Linked DNA regions of Homo sapiens: region 1 is linked to region 2. Evidence: fine-mapped expression QTL. A gene starts in region 2. The other region holds a variant in brackets. All regions are shown on one strand. Distances are between the middles of the regions. Region 1 overlaps FBXL20 (F-box and leucine rich repeat protein 20). Region 2 holds the start of FBXL20 (F-box and leucine rich repeat protein 20).

The links. PIP is the estimated chance that this variant, and not a neighbour inherited with it, causes the effect. A credible set is the group of variants that fine-mapping cannot tell apart.
Region 1: its variant is the best candidate, but not a certain one, in a credible set for the expression of FBXL20 in whole blood (INTERVAL, PIP 0.57).

The regions. Positions count from the first base shown.
Region 1 is chr17:39,313,184-39,318,183 of GRCh38, reverse strand. The region is part of intron 2 of FBXL20 (F-box and leucine rich repeat protein 20); the gene reads left to right. Among named protein-coding and RNA genes, the nearest start is that of MIR548BC, 18 kb to the right of the region's middle. RefSeq lists a silencer at 2,021-2,221. The variant A/GTA (reference allele first, on the strand shown) is at 1,890.
Region 2 is chr17:39,398,518-39,404,029 of GRCh38, reverse strand. It overlaps FBXL20 (F-box and leucine rich repeat protein 20), which reads left to right and starts at 2,404. Exons shown (of 15, transcript NM_032875.3): 1 at 2,404-2,669. The coding sequence starts at 2,628. RefSeq lists silencers at 1,255-1,419, 1,385-1,774, 2,025-2,104, 2,135-2,334, 2,365-2,794 and 1 more.

The DNA.
Region 1 (5,000 bases), 86 kb after region 2:
ACAACATGGTATAATGAAACTCCTGTTACCCCACTTCAATAATTGTCAACATTTTGCCAATAAAGCTATCATAGGAATTTTTTTTTATATGGCTTGAGGGCAGGGATTTTACATTCTTCAAATATGAGGTTTCCTAACACCATTTACTAAATAATTCATTATTTTCCTACTAATTTGAAAGTGAGGCCGCGAGCGGTGGCTCACGCCTGTAATCCCAGCACTTTGGGAGGCGAGGAGGGCGGATCACTAGGTCAGGAGATCGAGACCATCCCGGCTAACACGGTGAAACTCCGTCTCTACTAAAAATACAAAAAAATAGCTGGGCGTGGTGGCGTGCACCTGTAGTCCCAGCTGCTGGGGAGGCTGAGGCAGAAGAATGGCGTGAACCTGGGAGGAGGAGCTTGCAGTGAGCCGAGATCGTGCCACTGCACTCCAGCCTGGGTGACAGAGTGAGACTCCGTCTCAAAAAAAAAAAAAAAAAACAAAAAAAAAAACAAAAAAAAAAACAAAGTCAAACTCTCCTATGTATTAAATTCCTACATGTATCTGGGGCCTTTCTGGATGCCCTGTTTTGTTCCATCATTTTTTTTCCTTCTTTATAATCACCATATTATTTGGAATTCAGTAATTTTTGTACATTTTAATAAGCACCTTGGTCGGACACGGTGGATCACGCCTGTAATCCCAGCACTTTGGGAGGCAGAGACGGTCGGATCACGTGGTAAGAAGTTCAAGACCAGCCTGGCCAACATGGTGAAACCCCATCTCTACTAAAAATATAAAAATTAGCCAGGCATGGTGGCACATGCCTGTAATCCCAGCTACTCAGGAGGCTGAGGCAGGAGAATCAGTTGAACCCCGGAAGCGGAGGTTGCAGTGAGCCAAGATAGCACCACTGCACTCCACCCTGGGTGATGGAGTGAGACTCTGTCTCATGGGGGGAAAGAAAAGCAGCTCTTCTTTGTCTTTTTTAATAAGTTCTTGGTGATTTTCACACATTTTTCATCCATATCAACTTCAGAATCAATTTTTTTCGTTAAGCAAAAATCTGTTTGGATTCAATTCATATATTGGACATTTAATCAGGAAATTAAATTACATTGGGAAGTATTGGTATCTTCTAAGATATTAAATTATGCTATCCAAGAACATCTTATGTTTGGTTAATTATTCTTGTCTTCATTTTCTTTTAAATGAGATGGAGTCTCACTCTGTCTCCCAGGCTGGAGCACAGTGGCGCAATCTCCGCTCACTGCAACCTCCGCCTCCCAGGTTCAAGTGCTTCTCATTCCTCAGCCTCCTGCGTAGCTGGGATTACAGGCGCCCAGCACCATGCCCGGCTCATTTTTAGTATTTTCAGTAGAGACGGGCTTTCGCCATGTTGGCCAGGCTGGTCTCGAACTCCTGACCTCAGGTGGCCCACCCCCGCCTTGGCCTCCCAAAGTGCTTGGATTACAGGCGTGAGCCACCGTGCCCAGCCGTCCCATTCTTCTTAAACTTCAGTTTATTAATTTACATCAGTCTGAACTTATGGCTTCCCTTTTTTATTTAGTAAATTGTAATTCATTGCTCTCGTTTGTTTTCATATTCAGGTTGTCCCAGATTTGGCCAGTGGAAGCCCCTTCAAGCTGGTTACCATGACTTTTTGACGTGTCCCCATCATTCTTTGAGCACTCACTTGCTTTCTATCACAAGGTGTTCCAGGCTCATCGTACATTTTCTCTGCCCTATTTCTCCAAGGAGCCCTGATTCCTTCTACTAGAAAGAAATGTTTAGAAGCCAGTATCTGGGAGTTAAATACCATTGCCATTGAGGGGTTATTGCTCCAGGCCCTCTTAGTAGACAGAGCTCGGGGGGAAAGAAAAAAATGTGTGTGTGTGTGTGTGTGT[A/GTA]TATGTAGATGAACACGTGTATATATGTACACAATTTACATGTATGTTTATATCTGTATATATTGATAACTATGTTTCTATTAATACACTGATATTTCCAATTCCAATCCAACACTGCATAATTTAGTCTAGTTTTCTCCCTTTCCAGATTCACATCTCCCTTTGTAACAGAAACCTAACTTCTGTTGTGGTTCATGTTTTTTTGTTTTTAGAGATAGGATCTTGCTCTGTTAACCGGGCTAGACTGCAATGGCATGATCACAGCTCCCTGTAACCTTGAACTCTAAGGTTCAAGTGATCCACCTTGGCCTTTCCAAAAGCTGGGATTACAGGCATGAGCCACCTTGCCCATCTTTATTATGGTTAATGTATTTTATTATTTACTCAGTTCCCCTGATTTTAACCAATTTCGCTCTACAGTTGCTCTCTCTCTCTCTCTCTCTCTCTCTCTCTCTCTCTCTCTCTGTCTCTCTCTCTCACTCTCTCTCAAAGATCCCCTCTTCACTTCATTGGGTTTGGGCACTTCATGCCATGCCACCTTCCTCCTGTTGCACGGACAAAGTCCTGCTTGGGTTCTAAAGCCCGCACTAGGTTTATCCTCTGTGTGGATGCCCTTCTCACCTTACTTTGACACTCTACCCAAGGCTGCCCATTCACCCTGCTTGTATCCCAGTATCTCCTGCTAGGTCACCCTCCTCAAGGGTCCTCTCCTCACTCTGCTTGGACTCCGACGTATTGTTCAAGCCTCTGCACCCAACCTCTAACCTGGCATTGATACCTACCTTTCTATGCCCCTCCTAATGGCTTTAGAACTGACTCTTTCAACAAAGGAAAGGAAGAGGAAGAAAACGTGTACCTATATATGTTTTAAAGACATGTACTATATATATATATATATATAAATTATTTAAACTTTGCCCATTAATAATCTTCCCTCCTGAGGTAGTTTGTGAAAACCTTACTAAAAGCGTACTGCTTTCAATAAGCACGTGAAAAGATGCTCAACATCATTAGCCATCAGGGAAATGCCAATCATAACAACAATGGGGTACCAATTCGCACTCCCTAGGATGTCTGTAATCAAAAAGTGTTGTCAAGGATGTGGAGGCCGAGGCAGGCGGATCACCTGAGGTCAGGAATTCGAGACCAGCCTGGCCAACAAGGCGAAACCCTGTCTCTAGTGCAAATACAAAAATTAAGCTGGGCACAGTAGCCCAACCCTGTAATCCCAGTACTTTGGGAGGTTGAGGTGGGCAGATCACTTGAGGTCAGGAGATTGAGACCAGCCTGGCCAACATGGTGAAACCCCGTCTCTACTAAAATACACAAATTAGCCGGGTGTGGTAGTGTACACCTGTAATCCCAGCTACTTGGGAGGCTGAGGCAGGAGAATCGTTTGAACCAGGGAGGTAGAGGTTGCAGTGAGCTGAGATCGTGCCACTGCACTCCAGCCTGGGCAACACAGAGTGAGACTCCATTTCAAAAAAAAAAAAAAAAAAGAAAAGGATATGGAGAAATTAAAACCCTCACAAACTGCTCGTGAGAATGTACACTACAGTGTACACTGGTACAGCCACTGTGGAACACAGCTTGGCAGTTTCTAAAATCTCTAAATATAGAAATACCACATAACTGGCCAGTTGTGATGGCTCACACCTGTAATCCCAGCACTTTGGGAGGCCGAGGCAGGTGGATCACTAGAGGTTGGGAGTTCCAGATCAGCCTGGCTAACATGGTGAAACTCTGTCTCTACTATATATACAAAATTTGTACAGGCACAAGGCTGGATGTGGTTCCTTGTGCCTGTAATCTCAGCTACTCAGGAGGCTGAGGCAGGAGAATCGAATCTGGGAGGAGGAGGTTGCAGTGAACCAGGATGGCGCCACTACAGCCAGGTGACAGCCTGGGTGACAGAGTGAGACTCGTCTCTGAAAAAACAAAAAGCATAATAGCCAAAAAGTTAAAATAACCCAATTGTCCATTAACTGGAGAATGGATACAGTAGGATATTATTCCGCCATAAAAAGGAATGAAGTATGAATACGTGCAACAACATGGATATATTCTTTAAAATGTGCTAAGTGAAAGCCAACACAAAAGTCTTCATTACAGTATTATTCCATTTATATGAAATGTGCGGAATAGGCAAATCTATAGAGAAATAATGTTGATTAGTGGTTGCCAGGAGTTTGGGTGAGGAAGGGATAGAGAGTGACTGCTAATGGGTACAGGGAATCTTTTGAGATTGTTGAAATGTTCTGGAATTACATAGTGGTGATGGTTGCACAACACTGTGAATATACTAAAAAAAATCACCGAATTATGCACTTTAAAGTGTGTATTTTAAAAGATAAATTTTGGGCCGGGCACTGTGGTTCATGCCTGTAATCCCAGCACTTTGAGAGGCCAAGGTGGGCAGATCACTTGAGGTCGGGAGTTGGAGACCAGCCTGACCAACATGGAGAAACCGCATCTCTACTTAAAATACAAAATTAGCTGGGTATGGTGGCGCATGCCTGTAATCCCAGCTACTCGGGAAGCTGAGGCAGGAGAATCGCTTGAACCCAGGAGGTAGAGGTTGCTGTGAGCCGAGATTGTGCCATTGCACTCCAGCCTGGGCAACAAGAGCAAAACTCCGTCTCAAAAAAGTAAAAATAAATAAATGTTTGTTATGAGGGAAAAAAATAATTGCTGTAGTAGCTAAAACCCTGGCAGCCTACCCCACCAATTCTTTTATTTTGGTTTCTAAAGATAATTATCTCGGCTGGGCAAGGTGGCTCACACCTGTAATCCCAGCACTTTGGGAGGCCGAGGCGGGCGGATCACTCGAGGTGAGTAGTTTGAGACCAGCCTGGCCAACATGGCGAAACGCTGTCTCTACTAAAAATACAAAAATTAGCTGGCGTGGTGGCAGGCGCCTGTAATTCCAGCTACTTGGGAGGCTGAGGCAGGAGAATCACTTGAACTAGCGAGGTGGAGGTTGCAGTGATCCGAGATTGCGCCATTGCACCCCAGCCTGGGCAATAGAGTGAGACTCCATCTCAGAAAAAATACAAATTAAGAAAAAAACAAAAAGATGGCCGGGCACTGTGGCTCACACCTGTAATCCCA
Region 2 (5,512 bases):
CAATCTTGGCTCACTACAACCTCCGCCTCCCGGGTTCAAGCAATTCTGCCTCAGCCTCCCGAGTAGCTGGGATTAGAGGCGCCCACCACCACGCCCAGCTAATTTTTGTATTTTTAGCAGAGACGGGGTTTCACCATGTTGGCCAGGATGGTCTCAATCTCCTGACCTTATGATCCGCCCGCCTTGGCCTCCCAAAGTGCTGGGATTACAGGCGTGAGCCACCGCGCCCGGCCATCCCTTTGCCATTGTTACTCACCAAATGCATCAGTTTTTGCTGGGAGAAAACAGCTCTTAGATGAGACAGAATGAAAAGGCTTTTTTATTCCACTGGCTGAAGTCAAGCAAAAACATTAAAAGTACCTGGGACAGGAGGAGAAGACAGACCTGGGTTTGTGGGCCTGAGAATGAGTTTCTGAAGCTAGGTCCCTGGTTTTAGGAAGCCCCCTCTAGGATTAAAAAAAGCCGGGGGGTGGCGCGCTGGTCGTGGTGGCTCACATGAGGCCTGTAATCTCAGCACTGGGAGGAGGCTGGAGGATCACTTGGGCCCAGGAATTGCAGACTAGTCTGGGCAACATAGGGAGACCCCGTCTCTACAAAAGAAAAAAGATCCCAGCACTCTGGGAGGCCGAGGCGGGCGGATCACTTGTAGTCAGGTGTTCCTGACCAGCCTGGCCAACATGGCGAAACCTCGTCTCTACTTAGCCAGGTGCGGCGCGGCGCGCCTGTAATCCCAGCTACTTGGGAGGCTTGAACCCGGGAGGCAGAGGTTGCAGTAAACCGAGATCGTGCCACTGCACTCCAGCCTAAGCGACAGAGTTGAACCTCTGTCTCAAAAAAAAAAAAAAAAAAAAAAAGAAAAAGTTTGTACAGTGCTTTAAGAGTTGGGTAATATGTCCTCCAGCTAAAATATACCTGTTCTTAAAGATCTGCCGCACTTGTTGCTCTTGTTAATTTCTTAGACGCATAACAAGTCAGTCGCTAAAACCACTAATTAAAAGGGGTGTGAGGAAGACCAACTCATAACTGCTTTGGAAGCATACAATTAGCAGTGCTGCTGCTCCTGCCAGGTGTGCTGGAATTTATTATACAGTTTCTAATAGTTCACTCTTAGGACATAATTTTGTAGTTTGTTGCTCATAGAAGGGGCAACAAAACTACAAAATCCTGTGTTATTCCTTCGTGGAAATTCGGTCATAAATTCTGAGACCTTGAAGGCCAGAGTTGTTAAAACATAATATAATATGATGACACAGATCAGCTTCTATACAAGGAGCCCGGGAGTCTGATGAAGTGTTTCCATCGGGAAAACGCCCCCGCCTACTCGCTCACACACGCTTGTTTCTCCCGCCAAAGTGACGTCAGGCCGAAGCTCTCACCAAACAGCGCCCTGATTGGCGGACAGGCAGGCGCTGCAGCCCATTGGGCGCCGGCGGCGGCCGAGCAAGGAAAACCAAAGGCTCTTCGGTCTCGCCCGCCCCACCCCCACGGACGCGCGCCCCGACCCCGGCCAAAGGAAGGGTTGCCCGGCTCCAGCCCTGCACCCCCGACCCCCGGCCTCAGGTGCAGCTCCGCAGCCATCCCCGGACCAGGGCGGGCACTTGGCCTGTTGCTCAGCGCAACCACCCTCGCCCTCCCGAGCCATGCACAGGGAGACAAGCGTCCGGCCCCGGCCCCCCAGGCCTCCCTGCAGCACCCCGTAATGTAATGCACTGGGGCGGGGGAGGCGGGGGAGGCGGCGGCGGCGGCAACCGCGGAGGCGCGGCGGCAGCCGCACTGCCCCAATCTAGACACATCCAGAAGAGGAGGAAAATGGCTCCGAGCAGGGACCGCCTGCTGCACTTTGGGTTCAAGGCGACAGTGAGTGACAGGGGAAGGGAGCTGGGTGGCCGGGAAGGATGCGGGTGCCTTACAGGATCCTGGGGAACAAGTGACGAGGGGCGACGGGCGCGGGCAGAGGCTGAGGTTCTGTGCAGGCAGGTGCGTGCCTGTTTGCCCGCGGAGGGAGGAGAGGGGGACACGGGGCAGAAGAGGGGCCCCCGCGCAGAGTGCGGTACTGCTCTACTCTCCCTCGCTGGTCCGCGAGCACGCGCGCACTCGCATCCGCCCCACAGACCCCCTTTTCCACACGCACAGGCACTTCCCTGCCTCGCCTTCTCCCGATGGGCTCGTCTGCCTCGGAGGCGCAGGGGGTCGTGCCGCCGCCGCGCACCGGCTGCTCCCGGGAGCGCCGTCAGGGCCGGCCCCGTGTGGGGGAGGGGTGGTCTCGCGCCGCCGCCGCCGCGCTCCTCCCCTCCCGCCCCTCCCCCTCCCGGGCGCTCCGAGGCCCGGGCGGCTCTGTCCAATGAGCAGCGGCGTTGCTGGCAGGTGGGGAGTGTTTTTGTTTTGGGTTGAAGTTGAGGCTGAGGAGAGAGCCGAGCTAGCGACGAGCAGTCGTTGCGGCCGCCGGCGCCGCGGGAGGTGGTGGAGGCCTAGCCGGAGCCGAGAGGTCTCTTGTTCCCGTCCCACGGTCCCGGCGTCACCCCTCCGGCGCCCAGTCCCCGTCCCGGAACTCCCGGGCCTGTCCTGGGCCCCCGGTCTGTGCACTCCGCTCGCCGCAGCGCCCGGCCCGGGCCGCACCCGCCGGCCCCATGAGGAGGGACGTGAACGGAGTGACCAAGAGCAGGTTTGAGGTGTGAGCTTGGGGGGCTCGGGCGGCGTGAGGAGGGCGGGTCGCGCGCTCTAATCCCAAAACGTCCGCTCCGCACGGAGCCTCCTCCCTGGCAGGCGCCGTCACCCACCCACTGGCGGGGCTGCCAGACTCCGCTCCCCTTTCTTGCGACCCAGAAGCCCAGCGCAGCCCGGTGCCCCCAGTCCCCTCGCCGGTTCGCCCCCCGTCTCTTCCCACCAGCGGGCCCCCGCGGGGGATTAGCTCGGGCGCCCTAATTCCACCCTCCTCCAGGATCGCTCAGCTTTCCATTCTTTACACAACCCTTGGCTTGCCTCCTTCCACCCAGCCATCACGGCTCCGGTCCACCAGAGCCTGCTGCTTTTCTCGCTGCTACCTTCATGACGCGTTTGTTGTCTGTTGAGGGAGGAAATTAGGGGATGGGTACCATTTCTCCGAGTTTGAGACCTTGGTGAAACTAGGGAAGTGGGGACGGTAGTTTGGGATGATAGAGGCTACCACGGGTTTTCGGTGCTGTGTTTGGTTTGGGTATTGTTCTGATACTTCCTCTGCTTTCCCGTTTAGTCTGTACTTCTGTAGCTCATTGTTCCTTGGGAACCCTTGGATGTCTACATGCTTTGAGATTGGGACGAAAGTTCAGCAAATCCATTCCGGTCTGTCTTTCAGGAACTTTTTCTCCTCTAGCGAGGGAGGTTTACTGTCCTGGAATTGAGGAGTGGACGGTCTTGAAAGCGTCTTTAGAGAGTAGTCATCTTGCAAGGAAGAGATTCCTTTGGGAAGTGAAATATTGTAACTACTGATGAATTACAGTAGTATAACAATATACTGGAAGGTTCCTTGAGGGTCAAGAGAAAGAAACTTCTACAGGAAGAGTAAATGTCACCTGGTCTTTTCTGGCAGAGAACCAGGCTGACCTGGGATCACTCACAGCTCAGTGGACAATCTCACTCGGTGTTTTTCTTCATCTCCATTTGAGAGATGAAATTGTAAGACGGCGAGACAAAAGTTTAAGAAACTCGACAACTAGGTTCAGGGTGTGAAAACTTTTAAGGGTTGTCAGTTTAATCTATTCTTTGATTTCTTATTATGCGAACTGGGAAATAATTTGAATTGATCCACGAAGATCAAGATAGGAAGTGTTTTGGGTGCAGTTTAAGTTCAGAGCTTCAGTGTTACTGTTGCACTTCAGGAGTGGAGAAAATCAAAGAATTGGCCTTCTTAGAGTTTTAGTATTTAACTTGATCACTAGAAGAAAATGTTATGGAATATATTATTTGGTGTTTAATAGGACATTGGATGGCCCTAATGTACAGAGCCCCAATAAAGTTAATTTATGATGGTTTCGTATTCAGTAGTACCGTAAAAACCCAGAATGTCACTAAAATTGCTGAATAGACGTTCAGCAGTTAACAGGAATCTTGAAAGGCAGTTCCAGATACTGAAGATTTGAGTCGGGGACAGTCTTTTGCCTGTGGAATTAGCTCTTTATCAGTTTGCTGTTCATTTTAGATTGAATAATTTTTGGAAAGTATTCTCTTGTATGTGGTGTAAAATTACATTGCTATTTTGTATTTTTATAATTATCTTATACTTTAATTTACAATCTCTGTAGGGGTGGCATACTATAATAAAGTAATAAGGAAATTTGTTGCTGTATTAAGAGGTTTCTTTTTAACTTGTAGCTGATGTAGCTGGCAACGAAATCTTTCTAAATATGATCTGAGAAGGTAAAAAAAAGAATAAGGTGGGGAGTCCTTCTTGGACGGTTTCATGATTAAATAAGTGTTTGTTTATAAACTAAAAGCTATTCACTTAATATGATGTGAAGTGTTCCATGCCGGAATACAGATGAGAATGGCTAGAAATGATATGTGTTAATGAAGTTCATTGAGTACTTCTTAAAACCATTTACCTCTTTATTGACCTAATTTACAAGGACTGAGACAATTAGTAATTGGCTTCTTAGGAAGTAGTAAATAAATTTATTGCTTATTTGTTGAAAATATTTTAAATATTTACTTTCAATAAAAGATACGTAAATAAAGCAGATCTAAACATTTACATCAAATGATATTTTAAATCCTCAAGATTACAGTCTGCTTCTTAAAGAACTGATAATTTTACAACTGTAAGCAGATAGCAGATCTCATTGAGAATTTTTGTGGATGCATGAAATCTTTATATCACATAATAGCTAATTTCAAATTGTGGCTACGTAAGGTTTATTTTTCTTGGAGAAGATAACTGAAGCTCTATGATTTTCAGATAGTTGATTCATTGAAATCCTTTTGTAGGTATGCTTTTATATGTTGTAACTGGAGGCCACACACCTTAAATCTCCCACTCTGGGTTAGAGCTATAGAAAAAAAATTTTTTTAATTTAAAACCAAGGGGCCGGGCGAGGTGGCTCATGCCTGTAATCCCAGCACTTTGGGAGGCCGAGGTGGGTGGATCACGAGGTCAGGAGTTCAAGACCAGCCTGACCAACCTGGTGAAACCCGGTCTCTACTAAAAATACAAAAATTAGCCGGGCGTGGTAGTGGGCACCTGTAATTCCAGCTACTCAGGAGGCTGAGGCAGGAGAATCACTTGAACCCAGGAGGCGGAGGTTGTATTGAGCCGAGATTGTGCCATTTTACTCCAGCCTGGGCGACAGAGCGAGAGATTCCGTCTCCAAAAAAAAAACAAAAAACAACGAGGGTGAGTACCTGTTAGCCAGATGTGTAGCATCCTGTGGAATAGCCAAAGTAGATGACTACTGAATAAAGAATCTCTATTTAAGAGATCAAGAGATGTGAAAATTCATGTTTTTCTTGCTGTGTCACCATGGCATTAAATGTATACAGT